Homo sapiens: one gene and its partners. The protein of the gene in region 4 interacts with the protein of the main gene of each other region in a pairwise test. Each region holds a gene or a part of one and is shown on either strand. Other genes may lie near its edges.

What was found.
Region 1: the proteins of HUNK (region 4) and PTPRA interact in a two-hybrid assay, tested with the Homo sapiens proteins (one large-scale study listed by BioGRID and IntAct).
Region 2: the proteins of HUNK (region 4) and DIS3L interact in a two-hybrid assay, tested with the Homo sapiens proteins (one large-scale study listed by BioGRID and IntAct).
Region 3: the proteins of HUNK (region 4) and SPARCL1 interact in a two-hybrid assay, tested with the Homo sapiens proteins (one large-scale study listed by BioGRID and IntAct).
Region 5: the proteins of HUNK (region 4) and SORBS1 interact in a two-hybrid assay, tested with the Homo sapiens proteins (one large-scale study listed by BioGRID and IntAct).
Region 6: the proteins of HUNK (region 4) and NEUROD2 interact in a two-hybrid assay, tested with the Homo sapiens proteins (one large-scale study listed by BioGRID and IntAct).
Region 7: the proteins of HUNK (region 4) and SNRNP48 interact in a two-hybrid assay, tested with the Homo sapiens proteins (one large-scale study listed by BioGRID and IntAct).

What each region holds. Positions count from the first base shown.
Region 1 is NC_000020.11:2,879,981-2,883,480, forward strand, and holds part of PTPRA (receptor-type tyrosine-protein phosphatase alpha isoform 1 precursor), read left to right. Parts: intron 1-3,500. UniProt on the Homo sapiens protein: Tyrosine protein phosphatase which is involved in integrin-mediated focal adhesion formation.
Region 2 is NC_000015.10:66,331,568-66,334,398, reverse strand, and holds the end of DIS3L (DIS3-like exonuclease 1), read right to left. Parts: exon of another isoform or gene 2,531-2,831; intron 2,525-2,530; coding exon 2,379-2,524; intron 1,664-2,378; coding exon 1,489-1,663; intron 1,396-1,488; coding exon 1,087-1,395; 3' UTR 501-1,086; downstream 1-500. UniProt on the Homo sapiens protein: Catalytic component of the RNA exosome complex which has 3'->5' exoribonuclease activity and participates in a multitude of cellular RNA processing and degradation events.
Region 3 is NC_000004.12:87,480,877-87,484,376, forward strand, and holds part of SPARCL1 (SPARC-like protein 1 isoform 1 precursor), read right to left. Parts: intron 1,685-3,500; coding exon 1,548-1,684; intron 1-1,547.
Region 4 is NC_000021.9:31,998,520-32,002,019, forward strand, and holds part of HUNK (hormonally up-regulated neu tumor-associated kinase), read left to right. Parts: intron 1-6; coding exon 7-665; 3' UTR 666-3,500.
Region 5 is NC_000010.11:95,414,872-95,418,371, reverse strand, and holds part of SORBS1 (sorbin and SH3 domain-containing protein 1), read left to right. Parts: intron 1-2,186; coding exon of another isoform or gene 2,187-2,903; intron 2,904-3,500. UniProt on the Homo sapiens protein: Plays a role in tyrosine phosphorylation of CBL by linking CBL to the insulin receptor. Required for insulin-stimulated glucose transport. Involved in formation of actin stress fibers and focal adhesions.
Region 6 is NC_000017.11:39,605,121-39,609,322, forward strand, and holds the start of NEUROD2 (neurogenic differentiation factor 2), read right to left. Parts: upstream 2,801-4,202; 5' UTR 2,608-2,800; intron 1,485-2,607; 5' UTR 1,480-1,484; coding exon 331-1,479; 3' UTR 1-330. UniProt on the Homo sapiens protein: Transcriptional regulator implicated in neuronal determination. Mediates calcium-dependent transcription activation by binding to E box-containing promoter.
Region 7 is NC_000006.12:7,596,698-7,600,197, reverse strand, and holds part of SNRNP48 (U11/U12 small nuclear ribonucleoprotein 48 kDa protein), read right to left. Parts: intron 526-3,500; coding exon of another isoform or gene 497-525; exon of another isoform or gene 339-496; intron 1-338. UniProt on the Homo sapiens protein: Likely involved in U12-type 5' splice site recognition.

The DNA of each region.
Region 1 (3,500 bases), on a different chromosome or scaffold from region 4:
CCAGGTGATTCTAATGTGTAGCCAGGCTTGAGAACTAGAGACTAAGGACAGTGTTGAGACTAGAGAATGGCAAGGAGCAGAGTTGAGGGTCCTGTATGGCATGCAAGGATTTTGGACTCTATCCTGAAGGCAGAGCTAAATCTTTGAAGGATTTTTAAGCAGGAGAGTGAACTGATCTGATTTGCAATTGTTAAAAAGTTCACTGTGGCTGTAGTCCAGAGCAGTAGTTTTCAAATTGAGGTAGATAAGATGATCCAGGGGAACTGGAAGAAAATTTAGAACTTTTTATTGTTTTTATCTAAAAGATAAGATAAAACATTTAATTTAGGAATTGTCTCTGGCATCTTCTTGGGTCTATAGGTCAAACAGTTAATGTGTTAACTGTAGAACTTTGGGTGTCCTGAAGGAAGAGACTGAATTCTGCAGTGAGCAGAGACATATTTATACATTTGTTCTCCATGTATTGCAACATGTTGTTAACAGTTTATATTAACCAGTTCTCATTGAACTAGCCTTTACAAAATGGACATGCAGAGAAACCAGTGATCAAAGAAAATACTAATAATACAAGCACAAGCAAACAAGTTGTCAGAGCTGACACTTGTCCAACTCCTGTGATGAATTCTTGGTGAGCTATTCAAATAAGTCAGCTCTTACTAAATTGGAAAGTATCAGGAAATTTATAAGAAACATGAACTTTCGTGCTCTGTCATTAATAGGAATCTTGCTTTAAGATTCCTTTTAATCGTATGTAGAACCCAGCTGCACGGTGGCTCACACCCATAATCCCACTGTTTTGGGAGCCTGAGGTGCAGGAGGCCAGGAGCTCAAGACAAACCTGGGCAACATAGCGAGACCCCATCTCTACCAAAAATAAAAAATTAGCCGTGTGGTGTCACGTGCCTGTAGTCCCACTTACTTGGGAGGCTGAGGCAGAGGATTGCTTGAACCCAGGAGTTCAAGGCTGCATTGAGCCATGATTGCACCACTGTACTCCAGCCTGGGGGACAGAGGGAGACTCTGTGTCTCAAAAAAAAAAAGAGGAGGACCGGGCATAGTGGGTCACACCTGTAATCCCAGCACTTTGGGAGGTCAGGGTGGGTGGATCACAAGGTCAAGAGATCGAGACCATCCTGGCCAACACAGTGAAACCCCATCTCTACTAAAAATACAAGAATTCGCCGGGCGTGGTGGCGTGTGCCTCTGGGTAATTTCAGCTACTCGGGAGGCTGAGGCAGGAGAATCCTCTGAGCCCAGGAGGCGGAGTTTGCAGTGAGCCGAGATCTCGCCACTGCACTCAAGCCTGGGTGACAGAGCAAGACTCTGTCTCCAAAAAAAAAAAAGTATGTAAAACCTTGAGATATTAAATAATAAAATATGAGGCTGTCACCAGTATGAAGACATTTGAAAACCAAAAATTTGGAACATAAAAAGAACCTCTACATTTTTTTTGCAGTGATGTTTAAAGATAAAGGATATTCCATCAGATGCTTTACAAAATTTTGCTAACTTCAATTATTAAAATTTATATTTTGAGGGTTTTTTGCTTTTAAGAGACAGGGTCTCACTCTGTTGCCCAGGCTGGAGTACAGTGGCACAATGATAGCTCACTGCAGCATTGAACTCCTGGGCTCAAGCGATCTTCCCACCTTGGCCTTCCAAAGCTCTGGGACTACACATGTGAACCACCATGCCTGGCCAGTTTTTAAGTTTATTGTTCTTATAAAAGACAAAATGGGGCCGGGTGCAGTGGCTCATGCATGTAATCCCAGCACTTTGGGAGGCCGAAGTGGACGGATCACTTGAGGTCAGGAGTTTGAAACCAGCCTGGCCAACATGGCAAAACCCTGTCTCTACTAAAAACACAGAAATTAGCCAGGTATGGTGGGCACACCTGTAGTCCCAGCTACTCGGGAGGCTGAGGCAGGAGAATCGCTTGAACCTGGGAGGCGGAGATTGCAGTGAGCTGAGGTTGCGCCGCTGTACTCCAGCCTGGGAGACAGAGCGAGACTGTTTCAGGGGAAAAAAAGAAAAAAGACAAAAAAACACATACCCTTGGCAGATTCTTCCTGCCCCACCCCCAAAAGGCCCACTTAAACAAAAAATGGACTGATGTACTACATGGAAAATAATTTTGTCAGGAAATCAAAATACTGTTGGAAGATGTATAGAAAACATTGCTGAATATGTGAACAAACAATATTAGAACAAATTTTGCAGTGTGGGAAGTTTGGTATACGGTTATAAAAGTACAGAAGCTTCTAGCATGTCTCAGTATCGCTAGATACTCTTTTTTTTCTTTTCTTTCTTTCTTTCTTTTTTTTTTTTTGAGACAGTTTTGTTCTGTCACCCAGGCTGGAGTGCAGTGGCACCATCATGGTTCACTGCAGCATTGACCTCCCAGTCTCAAGTGATCATCCTACCTCAGCCTCTCAAGTAGCCAGGACCACAGGCATGCACCACCATACCTATTTTTTTTATTTTTTATTTTTAGGAGAGATGAGGTCTCACTATGTTTCCCAGGCTGGCCTTGAACTCCTGGCTCAAGCAATCCACCTGCCAAAAGACCTTCCAAAGTGCTGGGATTACAGGCATGAGCCACCGTGCCAACTGTGCCAGGCCTAGATTACCTTTTAATAGTTACATCCAAGAATAAGGACCACTTCTTTTGTGAGCTACTGGAAGAAAGTTGTACTGGAGAAGACATATTTTTAATAGTAAATGATTGCCTTCATAAGAACATTACTATATGGAATAATAGACTGAATGTAAATTAATGGAACAGCTGCTTTGACTGAACAAAAGAATGAAATTCATTCATTACTTCTCTATGGGCAGGCTGTTGAGTCCACTTATTTGTTAATTATCTTGTGGTAGAGTTGTTGATGAGTTTTGCATTTTTCTTTTTTAAAAAAATGCCAACTTTTTGTTATGGTAAGTGGCTACAGTTTGAGTAATCCTAATATGAAATCCAAAAGGCTTCCAAATCCAACACTTTTTTTTTTTTTTTTTTTTTTTGAGACAGGTTCTCACTCTGTATGTAGCCCAGGCTGGAGCGCAGTGGCATGATCATGGCTCATTGCAGCCTTGACCTCCTGGGCTCGGGTGATCCTCCCACCTCAGCCTCCTGAGTAGCTGGGACTACAGGCATGCACCACCATGCCCAGCTAATTTTGCAACCAGTAGGAATAATGCAAATAGTACAAAATCTGAAAAATACCTAAATCTGAAACACTTCTGGTCCCAAGCATTTCAGATAAGGAATACTCAACCTGAACCTAGCAAATATCATTTGAAAAAATAATATCTTAATCTGTCTCTTCAAGTAAAAGTATTATTTAAATAGTGAGTGAAAAAGGAACTACTTCTTTTCTTAGAAAGAAATGTGCAGGCCGGGCGCGGTGGCTCACGCCTGTAATCCCAGCACTTTGGGAGGCCGAGGCGGGCGGATCACGAGGTCAGGAGATCGAGACCATCCTGGCTAACACGGTGAAACCCCG
Region 2 (2,831 bases), on a different chromosome or scaffold from region 4:
GCTACTGTCCCTGGCCAATTTTTGTATTTTTAGTAGAGATGGGGTTTAATCATCTTGGCCAGGCTGGTCTTGAACTCCTGACCTTGTGATCCACCCGCCTCGGACTCCCAAAGTGCTGGGATTATAGGCGTGAGCCACTGCGCTCGGCCTAGAGTTAATTTTTCTAGTGGGGTGTTTGCTGGCAAAGTAACAAGTTTCCAACAAGGGGAAGGCCAATGCACCTCATCAAAATGGGAGAGTGGGAAGGAAGGCCTGTGACAGAACTTTACCTGTGCATCCTACCACCCGCCCTGTGTCCTAATCCCAGCTAGTACTGGAGACAGCAGGTAAGGGTTGAGTCAAATATGAAATAGGAATTTTTAAGTGGAGAAGTGGACTCAGGACTAAGTCTTATTATCTGAAAGTGACTGAAAATTACCTGACAAATGTCAGAGGGGCCTATGACCCAAACGTAATTACTGGAAAAATAAAACATTTGAAAGAACTGATTGGAGACGAGATAACCAGTAATTTCGGGTTTATTAAACTTATTAGAAAGGGGCCATCTGCAGAGCCACCACTTACTGTCCACTCATTACTGAAAACTCTGTTTCCATAGTGACCTAATTATACTTTATTTAATGCAACTTTAATGAATGAGAGAACTTTTTTTTTTTTTTTTTTTTTTTTTGAGATGGAGTCTCGCTCTGTTGCCCAGGCTGGAATGCAGTGGTGCGATCTCGGCTCACTGCAACCTCCTCTTCCTGGGTTCAGGCAATTCTCCTGCTTCAGCCTCCCAAGTAGCTGGGACTACAGGCGCATGCCACCACGCCGGGCTAATTTTTGTATTTTTAGTAGAGACTGGGTTTCACCGTGTTAGCCAGGATGGTCTCAATCTCCTGACCTCGTGATCCGCCCGCCTCAGCCTCCCAAAGTGCTGGGGTTACAGGCGTGAGCCACCGTGCCCGGCTGAGAACATTTTACATATATGCGAAATAGCTACCCAGTCCTGATCGACTAGAGCACTGAGTGACACACATTAAATGTTAAGTTTGAAAAGACTGTAAAACATTCACATATGACAGCTCTTAGTGAAGTAAGAGCCTCTCATATTCCATAATTGTTTGAAACATCCAGGAGAGCTAGGTCCCGTATCTCCTCTAGAAGTGTGTATAGGCTCCTTCCCTTTGTTTGGCGATATTCTTGATATTCCTCCTGAATGATGTTTACTTTGACTTCTTGGGCAAGCTGAGCTTCTTCCACAGATTTAGTTACTTCTTTCACTAACTCACTCTTCAGCAAGGGGGAACTCTGATGAATAAGTTCTGTATTTGGTATCTTGTATGGTTTGTTACTAATTATTTCAAGTCTGATTGTATCAGAATGGCAACGTGAGGCCTGTATGGATATTCTTACCTAGCATAGAGAAGAAAATACATATTACTAAATCACATTATTTATTCCTTACATTTAAAATATTAATAATACTTAATAGAAACACAGACTTACGGTTACATGGTCAAACAAATGGAACGTAACAGATTCCCCATCTGTTGTAGTAGAGGTAATTTTGTTTTGAAATCGTTGAAGGGATCCTGGTTTCCATTCAGAACAGCTATCTGGGCCACATGAGATGACTAAACCATCTTTATTTTTTAGATAAGCAGCACCTTTAATCCCAAACCTATATTATGACCAGAATATAAATCCAGAGACAATGTATTCTTAGTACACAGATCTTGTATGCTTATCTAGAATACTAGTTTTTCTCCTAGATTAAAAACAAATCACTTTTCCTGTGGTTTACCTCCACGTATTTATTTCACCTTAGCAGATGGAAACAAAGTATTTTGCTGGATAAGAAAGACCCTAAAATGGATATAGAAGTGTGTGTGTATATATATACACACACACACACACACACACACACACACTCCAGTCTTCACTTTTTTTTTTTTTTTTTGAGACAGAGTCTTGCTCTGTCGCCCAGGCTGGAGTGCAGTGGCACGATCTTGGCTCACTGCAACCTCTGCTTCCCGGGTTCAAGTGATTCTCCTGCCTCAGCCTCCCAGGTAGCTGGGATTTCAGGCATGCGTCACCATGCCCGGCTAATTTTTGTACTTTTAGTAGAGACGGGGTTTCACCATGTTGGCCAGGCTGGTCTCGAACTCCTGACCTCAGGTGATCCGCCCACCTTGGCCTCCCAAAGTGCTGGGATTATAGGCGTGAGCCACCCCTGGCCTCCAATCTTCACATTTATATACTGAATTATACATTACATTATGTACATATGATAACTAGTTGCTTAAATATTTTAATAAATTATATCTAATGTACAGTTTGTGTTCTACACTTTTAACTATGATTTCTTATGCACCATTGCATTAGATGTAACATACCTTGGTATAAATAGAAGCACACCATTTGTTCTAATTGAATAAATAACTCCGTCAGATATGCAACGCTCCTCGGTGGCAGGGTCTTTGTCTTTGAAGTACATGCACTGGAAGAGCTCAGTAGACTGCTTCTGAGAATGCTGTGCTGCCTGTAAGAAGCACAACTCCAAAGCATTTTAACACTCCCCTGGCATTCCCCAAAGAAACGAAATTCATATTCATTCAAATGTGAGATTCTGTAAAACTATTAATATAAAAATTGTTCTCTACTATGAAATTAAATTACTTTTTGTGGGAACTTAACCATCTAGTATTATCTCCTCAAAAATGTCTTAGAAAATGAATTATTTTATAAAATGAAACCCATTTATAGTTCATGAAATTAGAGATCAGCAAATTTGGGTCATGTTCACCTTGGGTACAGGAAAAGTATTACACATGTCTTACTTGCATTTC
Region 3 (3,500 bases), on a different chromosome or scaffold from region 4:
GGTGATTAGTTAGTGAAAAGTGCTGCTCCTTCCCCCGATGACAGAGTCCACTCTTAGTCTTCTAGGTCATCCATCCAGTGCCCACTCAGTCTTGCTTTCACCCTGGTGTGTTATTGCTTGGCCAGCCCCATTGAAATTTCCCTGTTTCATAGCTAATACCCTCAAGGCTCTCTGTGACAAGGTATTCAAGACGGGGGCTAGAAATTATTCTTGAGCAGTGCCTGTGAAACTCTCAGCTTGTGATGTTGCCTCTTATTTCACTGAGTAATTGGAAGCAAACAGGACCTCCACCTGCTCCCAGAACCACAACTTTGCTCCCTGCGACCTTCCTGTGCTCCTAACCTAAGTCCAATCCCTCTCCTCTGGGTGGGACATGTATCGAAGAACGCCCTCTGGCAGTTGTGCGCATTCTCTGCTCCCCACTAACATTTCCTTCTTGACTGGGTTATTTCCAGAAGCGTGCAAACATCCTCTACCATCTCCCACTGCTAGGTGGGACTCTTGTACTCACTTTCCACTCCAGCTGCCACCCCATTTCTCTTTATCTCTTCATAGCAAAACTCCTTGAAAGGATTGTCTATACTTGCTGCATCCATTCCTCCTAGTCTCTGTTGAACTCTGTCCACTGGAGCTTCCCTCCTGAAACATGCTCCCACCCCAGGAACAGTTCCTATCAAGGTCAGCTATGACTTTGACATGCTAAATCCCTGGCCAATTCTCAGTCTTCAACTCATAACCTATAAACAGCATCTGACACAGTTAATGCACACCCTCCTTCTTGTTTTATTTGTCTTCACACCATGTTTAATCCCAACTGACATACTTATACATATATTTGCTGATTTGGTTATATTTACATAAATGCTCATTTTACTATATATAATTGCATATATGCATATATATGTATGTACAAATATATGCATATACAAACATTACATACACACACACATATATACTTATTTGTTTAGAGTCTGTCTCTTCACCCAGAATGTAAACTCATGAAGGCAGAGATTTTCTTTTCGTTGCTGTATCTCCAGTATTTAGGTCAATTTCTGGCACCCAGGATACACTCAATAACTATCTGGTGAATGAATTTTCTCTGGAAGCTTTTGGAATCAATGTTCTGTGCTTTTTAATCTTAATATATTACTGATATTTTGAGTAATGGATTTACTTTATATCATACATCTATGTCTGGCCTATGAGAACAAAACAAATGCTTAGATTTAAATAAGATGTTTGGACTGACTAGATCAATGCTAAATTTATATTAACTTTGCTCAACCAGAGCTTGCTCTAGGTAGGAATTGAAGAGCCCTAATTCAGGCCACTGACCATTGGGAAGAATGGGGCGGTTTGGTGGTGTCTGAAACCTTGTGGCGTGAATGGTGACATCTATTATTCTGTTAAGCCACATGGGCTAACCGGGCATGGGGAAGCATAGTGGGCTTTTGCCAGTATGCAGAGGTAGGTAGCCCCCCCACCACGTCTTTCTTCCTCATGCCCTGTAGACAGACATTGAAGAAGCTAACCTGTGGATAACTTACTTTATTTCTCTGCTTCTCATTTAGATAACCAGCGTGTTCAGAGTTGGCTTCATAAAGCTGCATGAGGATATTCTTGAGCCAGTCTCTCATCCGTAGAGGAAACTGAATCACTTCAAAGTCCGTACAAGTAGGAATAGCTGTTACAAGCAGAAAATGTACTGTAATCTTTGGGCTTATTTGTGTCCTATGGCAAGTCCTCATAATAGGAAGCTTAACGACTTCTGGCAACTGACAGAGCTTTCTCAGGTCCCCATTATTATGACAGTGGTCCTCAGCCCTGGCAGCAGCACAACAAAATTGCCTGGGGTTTTAAAAAACATACCAAATGCCAGCTTCCAATCAAGTAAATTCTGATGTGATTGGTCTGGCGTGAAGTCTGGGCATCAGGATGTTTTTAAAGCTCCAAGATCTATTTGGATGTGCAGCTAGGCCCCAGAATCACTGCTGTAGAATCAGAGTTGAAATTTGTAGGTGGAGGGCACAAGTGCTATTGAATAGAGAAAAAGGTAGCTATTAGCTGATACTACAGTAAGAAATAATGCTAAATCTCAGTGGCTTAAAGAAACAGAAGTCAATTTTGCAATCCTGCTACAAGTCCAATACAAGTTGGCAGGAGGGCTCTGCTCATTGCAGTCTCCCCAGAGCTCAGGATCACTGCCGTTTTTTTTTTTTTTTAATTATACTTTAAGTTCTGAGATACATGTGCAGAATGTGCAGGTTTGTTACATAGGTATACACATGCCATAGTGGTTTGCTGCACCCATCAACCCATCATCTACATTAGGTATTTCTCCTAATGCTATCCCTCTCCTAGTCCCCCAGCCCCTGACAGGCCCTGGTATATGATGTTCCCCTCCCTGTGTCCATGTGTTTTCACTGTTCAACTCCCACTTATGAGTGAGAACATGCAGTGTTTGGTTTTCTGTTCCTGTGTTAGTTTGCTGAGAATGATGGTTTCCAGCTTCATCCATGTCTCTGCAAAGGACATGAACTTATCCTTTTTTATGGCTGCATAGTATTCCATGGTGTATATGTGTCATATTTTCTTTATCCAGTCTATCACTGATGGGCATTTTGGTTGGTTCCAAGTCTTTACTATTGTGAACAGTGCTGTAATAAACATATGTGTGAATGCATCTTTATAGTAGAATGATTTGTAACCCTTTGGGTATATACCCAGTAATGGGATTGCTGTATCAAATGGTATTTGTAGTTCTAGATCCTTGAGGAATTGCCACACTGTCTTCCACAATGATTGAACTAATTTACTCCCACCAACAATATGAAAGCGTTCCTATTTCTTCACATCCTCTCCAGTATCTGTTGTTTCCTGACTTTTTAATGATCGCCATTCTAACTGGTGAGAGATGGTATCTCATTGTGGTTTTGATTTGCATTTCTCTAATGACGAGTGATTATGAGCTTTTTTTCATATGTTTTTTGGCTGCATAAATGTCTTCTTTTTGAGAAGTGTCTGTTCATATCCTTCACCCACTTTTTGATGGGGTTGTTTTTTTCTTGTAAATTTGTATCTGTTCCTTGTAGATTCTGGGTATAAGCCCTTAGTTAGATTGACAGATTGCAAAAATTTTCTCCCATTCTGTAGGTTGCCTGTTTACTCTGATGATAGTTTCTTTTGCTGTGCAGAAGCTCTTTAGTTTAATTAGATCCCATTAATCAATTTTGGCTTTTGTTGCCATTGCTTTTGGTGTTTTAGTCATGAAGCCTTTGCCCATGCCTATGTCCTGAATGGTATTGCCTAAGTTTTCTTCTAGGGTTTTTATGGTTTTAGGTCTTATGTTTAAGTCTTTAATCCATCTTGAGTTAATTTTTGTATGAAGTGTAAGGAAGGGATCCAGTTTCAGTTTTCTGCATATGGCTAGCCAGTTTTCCCAGCACCATTTATTAAATAAGGAATCCTTTCCCCATTGCTTATTTTTGTCAGGTTTGTCA
Region 4 (3,500 bases):
GTGCAGATTCCTTTGGCTGCCGCAATATTTTCCGCAAAACCTCAGATTCCAATTGTGTGGCTTCTTCTTCCATGGAGTTCATCCCCGTGCCACCGCCCAGGACCCCGAGGATTGTGAAGAAACCGGAGCCCCATCAGCCAGGGCCCGGAAGCACTGGCATCCCCCACAAGGAAGACCCCCTGATGCTGGACATGGTGCGCTCCTTCGAGTCTGTGGATCGCGACGACCACGTAGAAGTGCTGTCTCCCTCTCATCACTACAGGATTCTGAACTCCCCGGTCAGCTTGGCTCGCAGAAATTCCAGCGAGAGGACGCTGTCCCCGGGTCTGCCATCCGGAAGCATGTCGCCTCTCCATACTCCTTTGCATCCAACTCTGGTCTCTTTTGCTCACGAAGATAAGAACAGCCCCCCAAAAGAGGAGGGCCTGTGTTGCCCACCTCCGGTTCCCAGCAATGGCCCCATGCAGCCTCTGGGGAGCCCCAATTGTGTGAAAAGCCGAGGCCGGTTCCCTATGATGGGCATCGGACAGATGTTAAGGAAGCGCCATCAGAGTCTGCAGCCATCTGCAGATAGGCCCCTGGAGGCCAGCCTGCCCCCACTGCAGCCCCTAGCCCCTGTGAACCTTGCCTTTGACATGGCCGATGGGGTCAAGACCCAGTGCTAACTTGGGCCAGCGGGGTTTGGGGTATCTCTAGAAAACAGCAACTGAACAGAGCTCCACACATCTGTCAGGGTGTGAGCACTCCAAGGCCTCGCGTGGAGCATCCTTAGTCCCACCTGTAGCTGAATCCACAGACCCAAAGCCTGCACAACCCAACCTCGCTTAGGGACCCCCAGAGATGCTGGAATCGCTAGGAGGGTTGGCTCCAGGGGCAGCCAATTCCTATCATTCAGATCTTCCTTCCTCCCAAGTACTCACCAACCCCTTCCACTTCCCACTTCCCCCAGGCTTGGGGGGAAAACAGGGCATGAGCCTTCTGGGGCACTCAGATTATGGACTGTTACCAGATCTTTCTTCACGCTGTGCTACATGTGTGCCTCTCACAGCAGTTGGCCACAGTTACAGGGAGAGAACAATATCACAGTCATTCATCCAGGCCACGTTTCCTCTGCGGAGTGTAGCAGCCCTGCCTTTCATAGCAGGGATTACCTGAAGGCCAGCAGGAGCCGGGGGCAGGCCCAGGATCCTCAGAGGAAGATGGAGAGGAGCTTCGGACCAAGATCAAACCAAACAGTGGGGACCCCAACAGAAGAGAAAGACTGAAGGAGACACTCATTTCCCAAGCAAGATTTTGATAGATTTTTGTTGTTGTTGTTGTTGAAACATGCTAATGATTGAATTATCTTTTCCAAAGATTTTTTTTAAATGTGATGTCGGTAAATTGAAATAACATAATTTTTTAAAACTTGGATGGAGAGATGAGAAGCAATTCCACCAAACTCATGTTTTCACAGGAGGGTTCAGTGTGGAGAGCAAAAAAGCTGACTGTGGTGATTTGCTGAGTGCTGTGGCCCACAGGCAGGGCAAGTCTCGGTGGCCCTGTGTTCATCCTGTTGTTTAAGGCATAGCCCTGATCCTTCTGGAAGGCATAGAACACGGTTACAGCTGGTTCTGTAGAAAGAGGGAAAAGATGATTGTGACAATTCAGAGCATAACTCAGATGGCGAGAAGGCAGCATTATCTCTGTGCGATGCTGATTTCAAGCTGCCCACAGAACTGGTGCGGCTCAGAGCTCGGCGAGTTTGCTGGGAGCTGGGAGCAGGCTTGCCTGGCAGAGAACCTGTTCAGATACAGGCCAGTTTCTTCTTCGAGGAAAGCCAAGCTCCTCAAACAGGGTTCAGTCCACGTTGTGTTTTCACACCTTTCTCCAAGGATCGAACCAAAGATGTGTCTCCAGTATTGTGTCTGTGCCCCTGTGTGTGTTTTGTGGACAGCCGTGTTGTCTGACTGTATCCAGCTGGCACTTGACAGGGTGCAGTCATTGGTGAGAAGAATCAGAAAAAGAAGACCCATCAGCACAGGTTGGATAGGGGTTAGTGTAGGAGACCAGTTACAGAATGGCCTGGAGTCTTCAACTTTTGACCGGTGCAGGTGTGACCAGAGACCACCTCTGTGGCCACCTCAGATAGTCATCTCAGTCCAAGGATCCCAAAACACAAATCTAGAATTGCAAAGCCAGCCTTTATTTCCCTGGCAGGCAGCCTTGCCAGAAGGCAGAGAGGCAGTTCTGAATCATTCTCTCATTCACCAGTGGTGACATCCTTCAGTCCCTCACATCTCTGACAGAGCGGGACAGAATGGATATTTGGCTGACCTTGGTGAGACCTGGAGCTGCCTGTTTCTTCCCTAGGGGATCACCACGGCTCTAGGGCATTCTAGGATGAGGTCAGACCCCTTGGCCATTGGTGTTATTTTTTGTATAGCTTCAGACTGGGTTCCAGAACTTACCATTGAAAACAGAGCTTTTAGGCCAGGTGTGGTGGCTCACACCTGTAATCCCAGCACTTTGGGAGGCCGAGGCAGGTGGATCGCTTGAGCTCAGGAGTTCGAGAGCAGCCTGGGCAACATGGTGAAAGCCCGTCTCTACCGAAAAATACAAAAAAAAATAGCTGGGTGTGGTGGTACGTGCCTGTAGTCCCAGCTACTTCGGGGACTGAGGTGGGAGGATCACTTGAACCTAGGAGGTCGAGGCTGCAGTGAGCCAAGATCATGCTACTGCACTCCAGCTTAGGTGGCAAAGTGAGACCCTGTCTCCAAAAAAAGAAAATAGAGCTTTATAAGCAGAGAGAAGAAAATAATCATCTAAGACCATCTCTCCATTCGACATGAAGTGTACCTTTTCTAAAGACGGTTTCCAGCTGCAACGGCTCCACTTTGCAGGCTTGCAGGGTGTATACCTGCGCATTGGGAACTTGCTGGAACCCCTGATGCATTTTCCTTGAGAGCAGGGGTACTTCCGCCTTGCCGTTAGCTTGTGGAGAACGTGCTTCTTATTCCTGGCAGGCTTCAAGAACAGCTGCACATGTGCCGCTAACTGACCGCGTTGCCATTGGCGACCTGGACTCTGAACTCAGGTTTATTCTAAACCCAGTGAGAGGTGAGGGGGAGTGATGAAAGGGGATCAGCTGTATTTGTGTGTGTGTGTGTGTGTGAGCACCTGACAAATCTATGAAACCGAGTGAAAGGAGAAATGTTAGATTCTTTATTATTTTATTATATTTATATGGAAAGCTCGACTCTCCCTTTGGTAAGTCCGAAGCATGTTGTCTGTTCGACCGTGACTGTCTTCCTCAGTCTGTGCCTGTGATTCCAGTCACCCTGTAGTTACTGACAGAAATTGACTGGACTGTCATTGTGTGAAGTCTAGGAGGAAATGTCCATTTTAATTGTATGATTTGGTCATAAGTAAGGACTATATTTATGTCACCATTATTAGATATATGTACTTTTGTAATGACTGTGAAATACACTTTTCCCTCACTACGACTGCTTCTTTAT
Region 5 (3,500 bases), on a different chromosome or scaffold from region 4:
GCGCTGTGGCTGACGCCTGTAATCCCAGCACTTTGGGAGGCCAAGGCGGGCAGATCACTTGAGGTCAGGAGTTCAAGACCAGCCTGGCCAACATGGTGAAAACTCGTCTCTACTAAAAATACAAAAATTAGCCGGGTGTGGTGGCACAGGCCTATAGTCTCGGCTACTCAGGAGGCTGAGGCAGGAGAATTGCTTGAACCTGGGAGACGGAGGTTGCAGTGAGCCAAGGTCACACCACTGCACTCTAGCCTGCGCAACAGGGTGAGACTGCATCTCGGGAAAAAAAAAAAAAAAGAATGAAATAAAATTAAAAATAAATTCAAAATAGACCCAGATCTTGCACCCTCCCCATTTTTGGTCAAAATTCACTTACCGATATTGATCAGACTCTAATATACTTCACTTGCGTAATTTGGAGGAAAGTTCTGGTTTTCTTCTAGAACTGGGATATCTTTAAAAATAGGAGCCATTCACGCCTGTAATCCCAGCACTTTGAGAGGCCGAGGCAGGTGGATCACAAGGTCAGGAGCTCAAGACCATCCTGGCCAGCATGGTGAAACCCCGTCTCTACTAAAAATACAAAAAATTAGCTGGGTGTGGTGACATGGGCTTGTCCCAGCTACTCAGGAGGCTGAGGCAGGAGAATTGCTTGAACCTGGGAGGCGGAGGTTGTAGTGAGCCTAGATTGTGCCACTGCACTCCAGCCTGGGTGACAGAGTGGGACTATGTCTCAAAAAAAAAAAAAAAAAGGAGCCATTAAAGAAAACCTAGGCTGGGTGCAGTGGCTCACTCCTGTAATCCCAGCACTTTGGGAGGCTGAGGTGGGCAGATTATGAGGTCAGGAGATTGAGACCATCCTGGCTAACACGGTGAAACCCCGTCTGTACTAAAAATACAAAAAATTAGCCAGGCATGGTGGCATGTGCCTATAGTCTCAGCTACTTGGGAGGCTGAGGCAGGAGAATCACTTGAACCCAGGAGGCGGAGGTTGCAATGAGCCGAGATCGCGCCACTGCAGTCCCGCCTGGGTGACAGAGCGAGATTCCATCTCGAAACAAAATAAAACAAAACAAAAGAAAAGAAAATCTAGCAAAATGCAGTTTCCTCATCTCATAGTCTAATTCCCAGTTGAGCCGCAGATTGCCAGATGACTCTTGTTGACATGAGGATCAGACTGGAGGGTCATCCCATTTCCTGACCCTCTTCTCCACTGAGACCCAAAGAGGAGCAGTGTTGAGAAGAGAGGGATGCTGTGTGAGCCTCTGGACCTGCAACCAGAGCTTTGGGCTTAAGCTGTGAATCTGAGGCTGATCATTTACCTCTGGGGCTGATTCCCTTTGTGTGGTGGTGGGCTGGGTGAGATGGGCATGGGGCTAGATTTTGAGAAACTAGGCACAGTCCAATCCGGTAGAGGCCAATTCAGTCCTTCATTGCCTGGTCCCCTTTTTTGTGTACATCAAAAATGGGAGACTGTGTGCTTTTAATCTCATGCTTGTCTTCCTTCTAATAATTAGCTTCATCAAATTCTTTCCTCTGAGAAAAGAGCACATGTGTATTCAAAAATCCTTAGCATTCTCTTCTTAGGGCACGTTAATTTGTTATGCTTATGGAATTGAGTGCTAAATCTCAGTGACTCAATTAAGACATCTGTCTCCTGTGAACACAAATAAGGACGGTTCTTCCAGTTCTCCTTTTCCTAAAGGAAAAGAATGAAAGGCACTCAAAAGAGTTCCAGTGAACATAAACTTCTAAGGCCAAAGGCTCGAAGATAAATCTTGAGGGAAGGAGGTTTGAGAGGGAGTTGGGGGCTTTGGTGCTTCTCCCACTGGTGTTTAGTTCACTTGGCTCCCTTCTTGAGTCAGGATGTCTAATAAAGATGCAGTCAGCCAAGGATTGGTGTCACAATTGATGTAGCATGTGGCCTGCTACGGGCTGGGCTCAGCCTCTCTGGATACAAAGGAGAGTCAGGCCTACCTCTCCAGGTGAGTGGGATTCAGTCTTTGGCTTCACTTAGAATTGTGGATACTAGGAGGAGTCTAACCTGAGGATGTGCTGAAAAACGTGTTAAGAATTGTTTTTGCTTGAATCATGTTATGCTGTCGTTTCTAATGATCGTCCTTCTTTCCATTTCCCCTCCTCTTTCTTTTTTCCCTGTTTGATAACATATCTTGAAAATATTGCTAAAGGTTCTCTCTCCCCCACGCCCTCCTCTCCCTCAAAAGGACCGCTTTGCATGGCAGTCCCCCACCATCCACAATACCTATAAGGATTCCCTCTACCTGAGCTCACCAAAGCCTTATGTCCCACTCGGCACCCCCAGACAGCAGAACCCCTCACAACCCCAGCCTATCTCTGTCCTCCTGGCAGCTGGATCGGCTCCCAAAGGTGTGGTGTGCCCTGGTTCCTTGCTTCCGGACTCCACGTTCCCCAGTGCTTCATCCCAACCCCAGCAGCGCTATGCAGCCACCAGGACAGTTTATCATAAGAATGTGAGCTCTAACCCATGTCATGAGGCAGTTGGGATTAAAAAGGTCAGCAGCTTATATGTACCTTGTTTATCCAATAACATTTGCCTGGCGGCGTCAGAAAACTCCTCTCGTGTTGCACGTGACCCTGCCGAAGGCACTCCCTTGGAGGCTGCGGGCACCCGAGCACCGGCTCCCGGCCTTGTCTCCCGCACAGCCGGCACAGGAAAACCACCCCCTGCTCCTCCTCCTGACCCTCCCAAGCTATTCTTTGACATCCGTAAAGATGCCGTTAACCGTGGCGAGAGTCCTTCCCTGGGGACTCAGGCTTCGTTCCCAGATGTGAGACCACCTGTGCTAGGCCCCCGGGTTACCTCTGATCCCGAAAACCGGAAGAGCAAAGAATCTTACCTTTTGCAGCCGAGTTATCCAGCCAAGGCAAGAAATTAGGAATGTTTGTGTGTCTTCTCTACTGTCTCTTTCAAAACTGATGCGAGCAGCTCATTGTTCACTGGGCTGCCCTACCCTCCCTTTCCTCATTAATGTTGTTGTGGCTTGAGTCCCGAATTCTTCTGTCTGAACCTTTCAGCACAGTACTCTCTTTGTCTGTCTCTCTTTTCTGTAAATGTGTAAGTATGCCGGAGCGTGGAATCCAGAGACTAATAACATGGTGAGAAACTCATTGTTCATGTTTTATTACAAGGTGCCAAAGAAATTGTATTTACTCCCAAGCTTTTAGGCTCTATGGTGGTGTTGTGGGGTTAAACACAGCCTGCCTGCCTGTTCTGTTCTTTCTCTCTCATAAAGTGTTAAAAGGATTCAAAAATAGATGGATGAAAAGCGGAGTTGGATGGGGTTCCCTCTGTGTCATGGAGTGTCAGAAGGCCAGCTGGCCAGCTCCGACTGTCTCATGTACTCTGAGGAAAGGGCACTGATTAAATATTTCTCAGAGTACCTCACTGCATGCCCACTCTCAACCGTTTAAATATGGAATTCTTTCCTCGTATCATACCCCTTTCCATAACGACCCCCTTA
Region 6 (4,202 bases), on a different chromosome or scaffold from region 4:
GAGGAGGAAACCTCAGCGAAGATATTGGGAATGGGGGAGGGGTGCCTCCAGGGAGCCCCCGGAGAGAGGTCCCTGGAGAAGCACTCCTTGGGAGAGAGGAGGAGGGAACCCCTTGGGGAGAGAGAAGGCGAGTCCCCTGGGGGAAGCGAGGCCCCTGGGACAGGCCACCCACAGGTAACAGGACTGCGCTGCCCCAGGAGAGCGGCAGGACCGGTGGCCCGCTCCCCGCGCCCGGCGCCGGGGTAGGATGGGGGTGTCCCTGCGCTCTGGGGGCTGGGGACAGGGGGGCGGGCAAAGGCAAAAGAAAAAGAAGGGAGCCGGCGCGAAGTCTCAGTTATGAAAAAACGCATTGAGCTCCTCGTACATGGGGCCCCGGTCGTGGTGAAGGTGCATATCGTAAGACAAGAGATTCTCCGAGTGGACGCCCCCGCGCACAGCCGACGAGCCGAAGACTAGCCCGTGGCCCGTGGGCCGCGAACCGGGCAGCGCCGAGTAGTGCATAGAGTAGTGGTAGCTTTTCTCGTGGTCGGGCGAGGAGTCCTGCTTGAGTGAGAAGTTGCCATTGAGACAGAGCGGGGGGCTGAGCGGGCCCTCGTACTCGGAGCTGTTGTAGTCCGGGCTCGCGCCGCCACCGCCTGCCGCCGCATACAGCGTCTCGTAGGCGGCGCAGTAGCCGTGGGTCCGCAGGGCGTGCGCCGCGCCGCCGCCCAGGCCGCCGGCCGCCTGGCACTGTGCGCCCGCCAGGCGCGAGCACGGGTACGGGTAGGGGTGCATGGCGAACGGGCCGCCCGAGCCGTGGAAGCGGCCGGCACCGTCGGCGCCTTGCTCCGTGAGGAAGTTGCGAGAGTTGAGCTGCAGACAGCCGGCCACCAGATTGGTGGTGGGCTGCGACAGACCCTTGCACAGAGTCTGCACGTAGGACACTAGGTCTGGCCGCTTGCCGGAGCGCAGGATCTCCGAGAGCGCCCAGATATAGTTCTTGGCTAGGCGCAGCGTCTCGATCTTGGACAGCTTCTGCGTCTTGGAGTAGCAGGGCACCACCTTGCGCAGGTTGTCCAGGGCTGCGTTCAGGTCGTGCATGCGGTTGCGCTCCCGCGCGTTCGCCTTCTGCCGCCGAAGCTTGGAGCGCTCCAAGCGCGCCTTGGTCATCTTGCGCTTCTTGGGCCCGCGCTTCTTGGGCCGCTCGCCCTCCGCCTCGTCCAGTCCTTCTTCCTCCTCCTCTTCCTCCTCCTCCTCTCCCCCCAGCTCGCCTTCCTCCTTGACCTCGGCCAACGTGGCCTCCGTCCCCTCTTCTCCACGGAGAGGGACTGGCTTGGCCGCCCGGGCTGGCCCCGGAGCCCCTGGCCCGGGCGCAGGCGGTGGCGGTGGCGGCGCGTCGCCCTTGTCGCTCCTCGGCTCGTCGTCTTCGCCGTCGCCCCAGCTGGCGAACTTGGGCACGTCCGAGAGAAGGCCGGGCTCGCTGAACAGGCGGGTCAGCATGGTGCCTGAGGGCGCCCCGCGGGCGGGAAGGGGAGACAGACAGCACAAAGTGAGGGGCGCGCTGGGGTACCGACGCCCCCCCACAACCCTCCTCCACCCCCGAGTCTCGTGCGGGCTCCTGCCTAGGCTACCCTGGATGCCCACCTCCGCCGCCTGCCCCGCCCAGAGCCGGCCCAGCCCTACCCGGCTGCCGGCCTGGGATCTCGGCCCAGGCCCTCTCCCCGGCGCTGGGCCCCGGCTCCGCCCCTCGCTTGAATGGGGGGCTGCTCCCCGCGCCTGCTTCTTCTCAGGGTCAGGGCAGGGACCGGGTGGGGGTTTTAGGGACCAGATATCTTTGCCAGGGGAGGCGGCGCGCTCGCCCTGAAAGCCCGTTCTCTCCTGGCGGTGGAGAGAGGCTGGTCGGCCGCCGGTGGGGACAGCTGCCCCGCTCCGCGCTCTCGCGGCCCGGGCCCCCCGGCCCAGCTCCCTCACCCCTCCCGTGGCTCTCACCCCCACGCTCCCTAATCCAATTTGCAACTTGGCTGCGCGCCGCCCCTTGCTCGGCCCCCACCCCCGCACCCCCAATTCCAGAGGCGGGAGGATCGTCTCCTCTAGCCGATGCGTCCCCAGCTCCCGGAGCCGGCTCTGGGCGGCGAGGACTGAAGCAGCGGGGCGTGGGGAGGAGACTGAGAGAAGCGAGCCCAGTCCGTCCCCTCTGCGGTCAGGGACCCCCTTCCCCCTTCAAGCTGACTCCCTCCCACAAGGCTCTTCAGATCTCGTTGTATTTTGGGATTGATGGGGGAAAAATCCAAATTTGTTTGTTTGCTTCCCTTTTTTCGGTGGTGGGGAAAGGTGGCAGGCTTTTTGGGACAACCATGGAGGGGTCCTCCGTCTCGGCCTCTTCGCATATCCCCCTCCGTGATCCTGCCTTCCCCCCCCACCGAGCCCATCGCAGGCAGAGACACCTCCTCTGCAGCCCCCTGGGCTGCAGCCCCTAAGGGAGAGAGAACCTGGGGCCCCTCCGATGCCCACCCAATGAGGGGGGCATCATCCCAGGAAGGAGGTATTTGAGGACCCTCCTGTCGGCCGAAGCTGCCGCCCCTCCTCCCAACCGGCGGGTCAGATCTCGCTCCCTTTCGGACAACTTACCTCGGAGAGGAGTCAAGGGGAGAGGGGAGGGGAGGGGGGGAGGGGGCAAGAGAGAGAGGGGGGAGAAGAGGGATCTTCTCGCTTATTTCATTGTTCCCCCATCTTCAGGGAGCGGGGGCAGCGGCTCCTCAAGGCGGCGGGCGCCGGCGTCTTCAGAGCGCCATGCGAACCGCGGAGCGAGTGTGGCATCTCTACCAGGCGGGGTACCAGCCTCTATGCCAGGCCATATGGGCTTGGCACGTCACGGGCAGCAGCTATCACATGAGAGACGGTGATTGGCATGCGTCTGCACTGGGGGAGAGCCGGCTCCCCCGGGACCCGCCGCCATCTGTCACTCTCTACTCCAAAAAAAAAAAAAAAAATTAAATAAATAAAGGAAATAAATAAATATTTCTGCCGCCCTCCCCTCCCCGCCCAACGCAGGGAAAGCAGGGATTGAGAGGAAGGTGGGAGGAGTTGCCCCCTGTATATAGAGACCCCCTCACGGGAACAATGGGGTGGCAAGGCTGGACACTGGGGGCTCGTGGTGGCCAATTCTATGCTCCCTCAGGGTCCCGCTCTGTCCATTTCCTCCCCTGCAGGCCCCCAAGGTGGGTCAGGGACCAGACCCCGGGTTGGGGAGAAAGGACCTCTGTGCTTGCCCCCACTCCCCAGGAGGGTCCCCTTGGCCACAAAGGGACAGCTGAGACCCCCTCCCAGGATGGCTGTAAGGGGCGTCCCTGGCCCGAGCCCCATAGGTAGATGTTGGCACCATGCCATCCCTCATCCCTGTCTGCCCCTCCCCCACCCACCCTCACGCACACACAACATATGTGGCTAAACGAAATTCAAACCAAGGGAAAGACAGAGAAAGGGAAAGATGTGCCTGGATGTCTGTGCCTCTGCATGGGCGTGTGTGTGTCTGTGGGGACATGTGTGTATCTGTGGAGTCAGCCGATGGGAGATCTTTCCTTGGTTGTTGGGGGCGTATCCATGTTAGGGTGGAGTGGGGAGGGGCCGCGAGATGAGCCTGTGCACCACCCATCTGGGGGTGGAGGGGAGGGTCTAAGTCTGGATTCCTAACCTAGAAACCTCTCACTCTCCTCCTCCCACTGCCAGACAGGTGACCAGTCCACCAGCGGCTTTCTCTCCTGGTCTTCAGACTTGGTTATTTGAGGGAGGAGGAGCAGGCAGTGCTGAGAACTGCCTAAGTTCCTGGATGAGACTCAAGCATTCTCCTCCCCTTCTGAAAAATCTGAAAATACTGAAGCCAACCCCAGTAATCCCAAGAGTGGCCAAGGGGAGGTAGGTCAGACAGCTGTCTTGATAAGGGAGGTAGGAAGTTGCTGTTTTATCTTGTGGCTCACCTTTCAACACTCTCATTGGGCCAGACACAGATACAAATGGCACAGGTTGAAGAGGTGGCTTTGGACACACACACACACACTCATGCACACACACATACACACACACACGGATGCATACACATGCACACATATACCTGTTCCTCACCCTGTGGTGTAGAAAAATAGATAACATACCCCTACTCAGATAGACACATGTATGTGAGCAGGTAATCACAGCCTGGTGTAGACAGACCCTTGCCCACACCCCAT
Region 7 (3,500 bases), on a different chromosome or scaffold from region 4:
ACACGGCTATACATAACAATATATGGCCATTTTTACTCGTCAAAGGGTTTTGAATTAATGGGGAAAAAAGGGTTCCCTTTCAAGTCAATCAATTTTATTCTAATTATAGTAGGCATTTCATAATACAAAATTATAAAAACAGCTTTGATAAGCCTAATTCCTTTGAATTAGGCTATAAAAATTTGGGAGGAAAACACAGATTAGAAAATAATGATGTATTACAAACAAGCTTCATATAAACCTTTGCCTGTTATTTTTAAACAAAGAAATATAATTTCCTTCTTAAATTATTTTAGCCTTTTCTTCAATTTATTCATCTTAAATTTCTTTATGATGAAGACTGATACTTAAATTCCTTGTAATTCAACCAAAATTCCAATTCAAGACTATAATATGTGACAGGTATTAAGATAAAGTTTAGAAATTTTACTTTTAAAAGGATATCATTTGCAAAAAGGATACTGCATATCTTTAAATAAGGAGTACATTCAGGTTCCTAATTCCTCTTTATACTCACCCCAATTACTGAAAAAGAAAAAGTACAGGAAAGGTTAAGCAACAAACTGCATTCAATTCATTCGGAACATAGATATTTCTGACAACAAAAAGGATAAACATACTTAAATAAACTTACATTTACATAAAATGTAAATTTTCAAAATGCATGTTTTTAAATGATTTAAAGGTACATATGAATGTGCTGTAATTATAATAACTCTAAGACCCTTTGGCTGCCTGTTTTTGCAGGTTTTTTGTGGCAAAATATATATAACATAAAATTTAACATTCTAACCATTTTTTCAGTGTACTGTTCAGAGACATGAAGTGCATTCACGTTGTGCAACCTCTATCCATCTCTAGAACTTTTTCGTCACCCCAAATTGAAACTCTAATCTATTGTTTTAATAATGCCAATTCTCATTCTTGTTACTTTTGTCATCAAAGGGGATCTTAAACATATAACATTCAACATTAAATAGTACTAGTAGGTGTTGTCACAAAGATACAAATTCAGAATTTTAGGGAGAATTCATTCAGAGTCAATTCCTTAACGTTACAGATAAAGAAATTAAGTGTCATAGAAGTAACATGACTTGCCCAAAGTCTCACAAGTGATAGGAACAGACTGGATCTAAAGCCCATCCTATGCTGTCTTTTTAAGTTTCTTTGATAGTACACTGATCTTCATATCATGGCCATGACTCAAACACACTTCACAATACTGAAGTATACAACCTGAATATTTAATATTGAAAGAAAAAGATAAACCACTAAACATAAAATGATTGTTTATGATTGAAATATCTTGGTTAAAAAATTAACCGAAGTAACTATATCTGAAAATAAGTATATAGATTGAATAGCTGTATGAGCTTTCATAAAGTTTAAGATTGAGAATTCTGTACACTGAGTTTAGGCCTGACATGACAGATGAAATGAAAACATACATATAAAACCTTGTCAAAAAACTTACATTGTAGTGTGTAACAAACAAAATACGAATTAGATGGAGAAATGTAAAATTTTTCATGTTAGTCATTCTCCCTTAAAAGTAAATACATCAATAAGATATTTAAAGAAAGTCCTGTCCTGAGGGAAAAGATCTTAAAATGTCTAAGACATAAGTGAGCCACAAAAATAATCTGTTGAGAAATTGCATAACTCTACAGAGGATATAAAAAAAAATTTTTTTTTCTTTTTTTGAGACAGAGTCTCACCCTGTCGTCCAGACTGGAGTGCAGTGGCGCCATCTTGGCTCACTGCAACCTCCATCTCCCAGGTTCAAGTGATTCTCCTGCCTCAGCCTCCTGAGTAGCTGGGATTACAGGCACGCACCATAGCGCCTGGCTAATTTTTGTATTTTTAGTAGAGACAGGGTTTCACCATGTTGGCCAGGCTGGTCTTGAACTCCTGGCCTCAGGTGATCTGCCCACCTGGGCCTCCCAAAGTGCTGGGATTACAAGTGGGAGCCACCACACGTGGCCAAAAAAAATTTTTAAAGAAGGTTGAAGATCATATAAAGTTACCGTTGGCCAGGCGCGGTGGCTCCCGCCTGTAATCCCAGCACTTTGGGAGGCCAAGGTGGGCAGATCACAAGGTCAGGAGATCGAGACCATCGTGGCTAACACAGTGAAACCCCGTCTCTACTAAAAAAATACAAGAAAATTAGCCAGGCGTGGTGGCAGGTGCCTGTAGTCCCAGCTACTCGGGACCTGAGGCAGAAGAATGGCGTGAACCCAGGTGGCAGAGCTTGCAGTGAGTAGAGATTGTGCCACTAAACTCCAGCCTGGGCGAGAGAGCAAGATTCCGCCTCAAAAAAAAAAAAAAAAAAGGTTACGGTTAACAATTAAATCTTAATTTAAGATAGTGTAAGAATTCAAAATTAAAGTTCCTCTTAACTATCAAAATAATATAATAGTTCCTCTTAACTATTCATTCAAAGTAATTCTTTGCTTTTGAAAAGAACTAAGCTCAATGTCCAAATCTCCCTTATTACTATTATAAAAATTAAAAAGCAGAACATTTTCTAAATTACTCATATATATAAAACTCATCCATTTCATTATCTTAATATTACTTTCTGTATATTAATTTTCACTTAGACCATAGAAGCTACCAATTTTTGGAGCTAAGGCTTGTTTAGCATCCATTATCTCTGTTCCTCTCAACAACTCTATGAGAGTTTTGTATTACAGATAAGGAAACAAAAACTCAGTTATCATCATTAATATATGGCCAAGCAGCTACTTTTATTTCTTTAAAACAGGTTTACACAAAGCAGAATAAACAATGAACAGCACTGATAGTCACGATTAGTATGCAGAGATATGAAGTTTGTGATATTCTTCCACTTAATCATGAAAGACATCATAAATAAATTTGAGCAATATCTAGAATCCTGGTCCACAAATTTTACTAAATGTAGGGTTTCTAACAGAAAATCAAACAACTCAGTTCAGAGTTTGTGTCAAAATTCAGAACTTAGTTCTGGATCCACTTTGATATTATCTAGCAGAGGTGAGTTACTTCACTTTTGTGTGCCTGTTTCTTCACCTATTATGGAGGGGAAAATATCGTTCAACTTATCACAAGTTTGTTGTGAAAGAGAAATGTAATTCATAAAAGAGCTTTAAAAAAATAACCTTTTAAAAAATAAAAATACGGAGAACCTTTAGAACAAACACACTAGAACTTTATCATGTCTCTATCAGACAGGGTTTTTCTTATCTGTAAAATGCAGACACTGGATTAGATGATCTCCAAGTTCTCTTTCAACTCTAAAATTCAGTAAATCTAACCACTTAAGACTCAAATAAAGTCCTTTAAGTATTATTAACCCTTTCAAAAACCAAAAACCTCAACTTTTTTATGGGTACACTACCAGGGGATATGAGCAGAACCAATAGCAGAGGCCAAAAAAGGCTTGACTAGTCATAGCTCAGTAATCTCTCCGAATAAATAAAATGAGAGTCAACTGTCTCCCTCAAAGAAAAAAACCT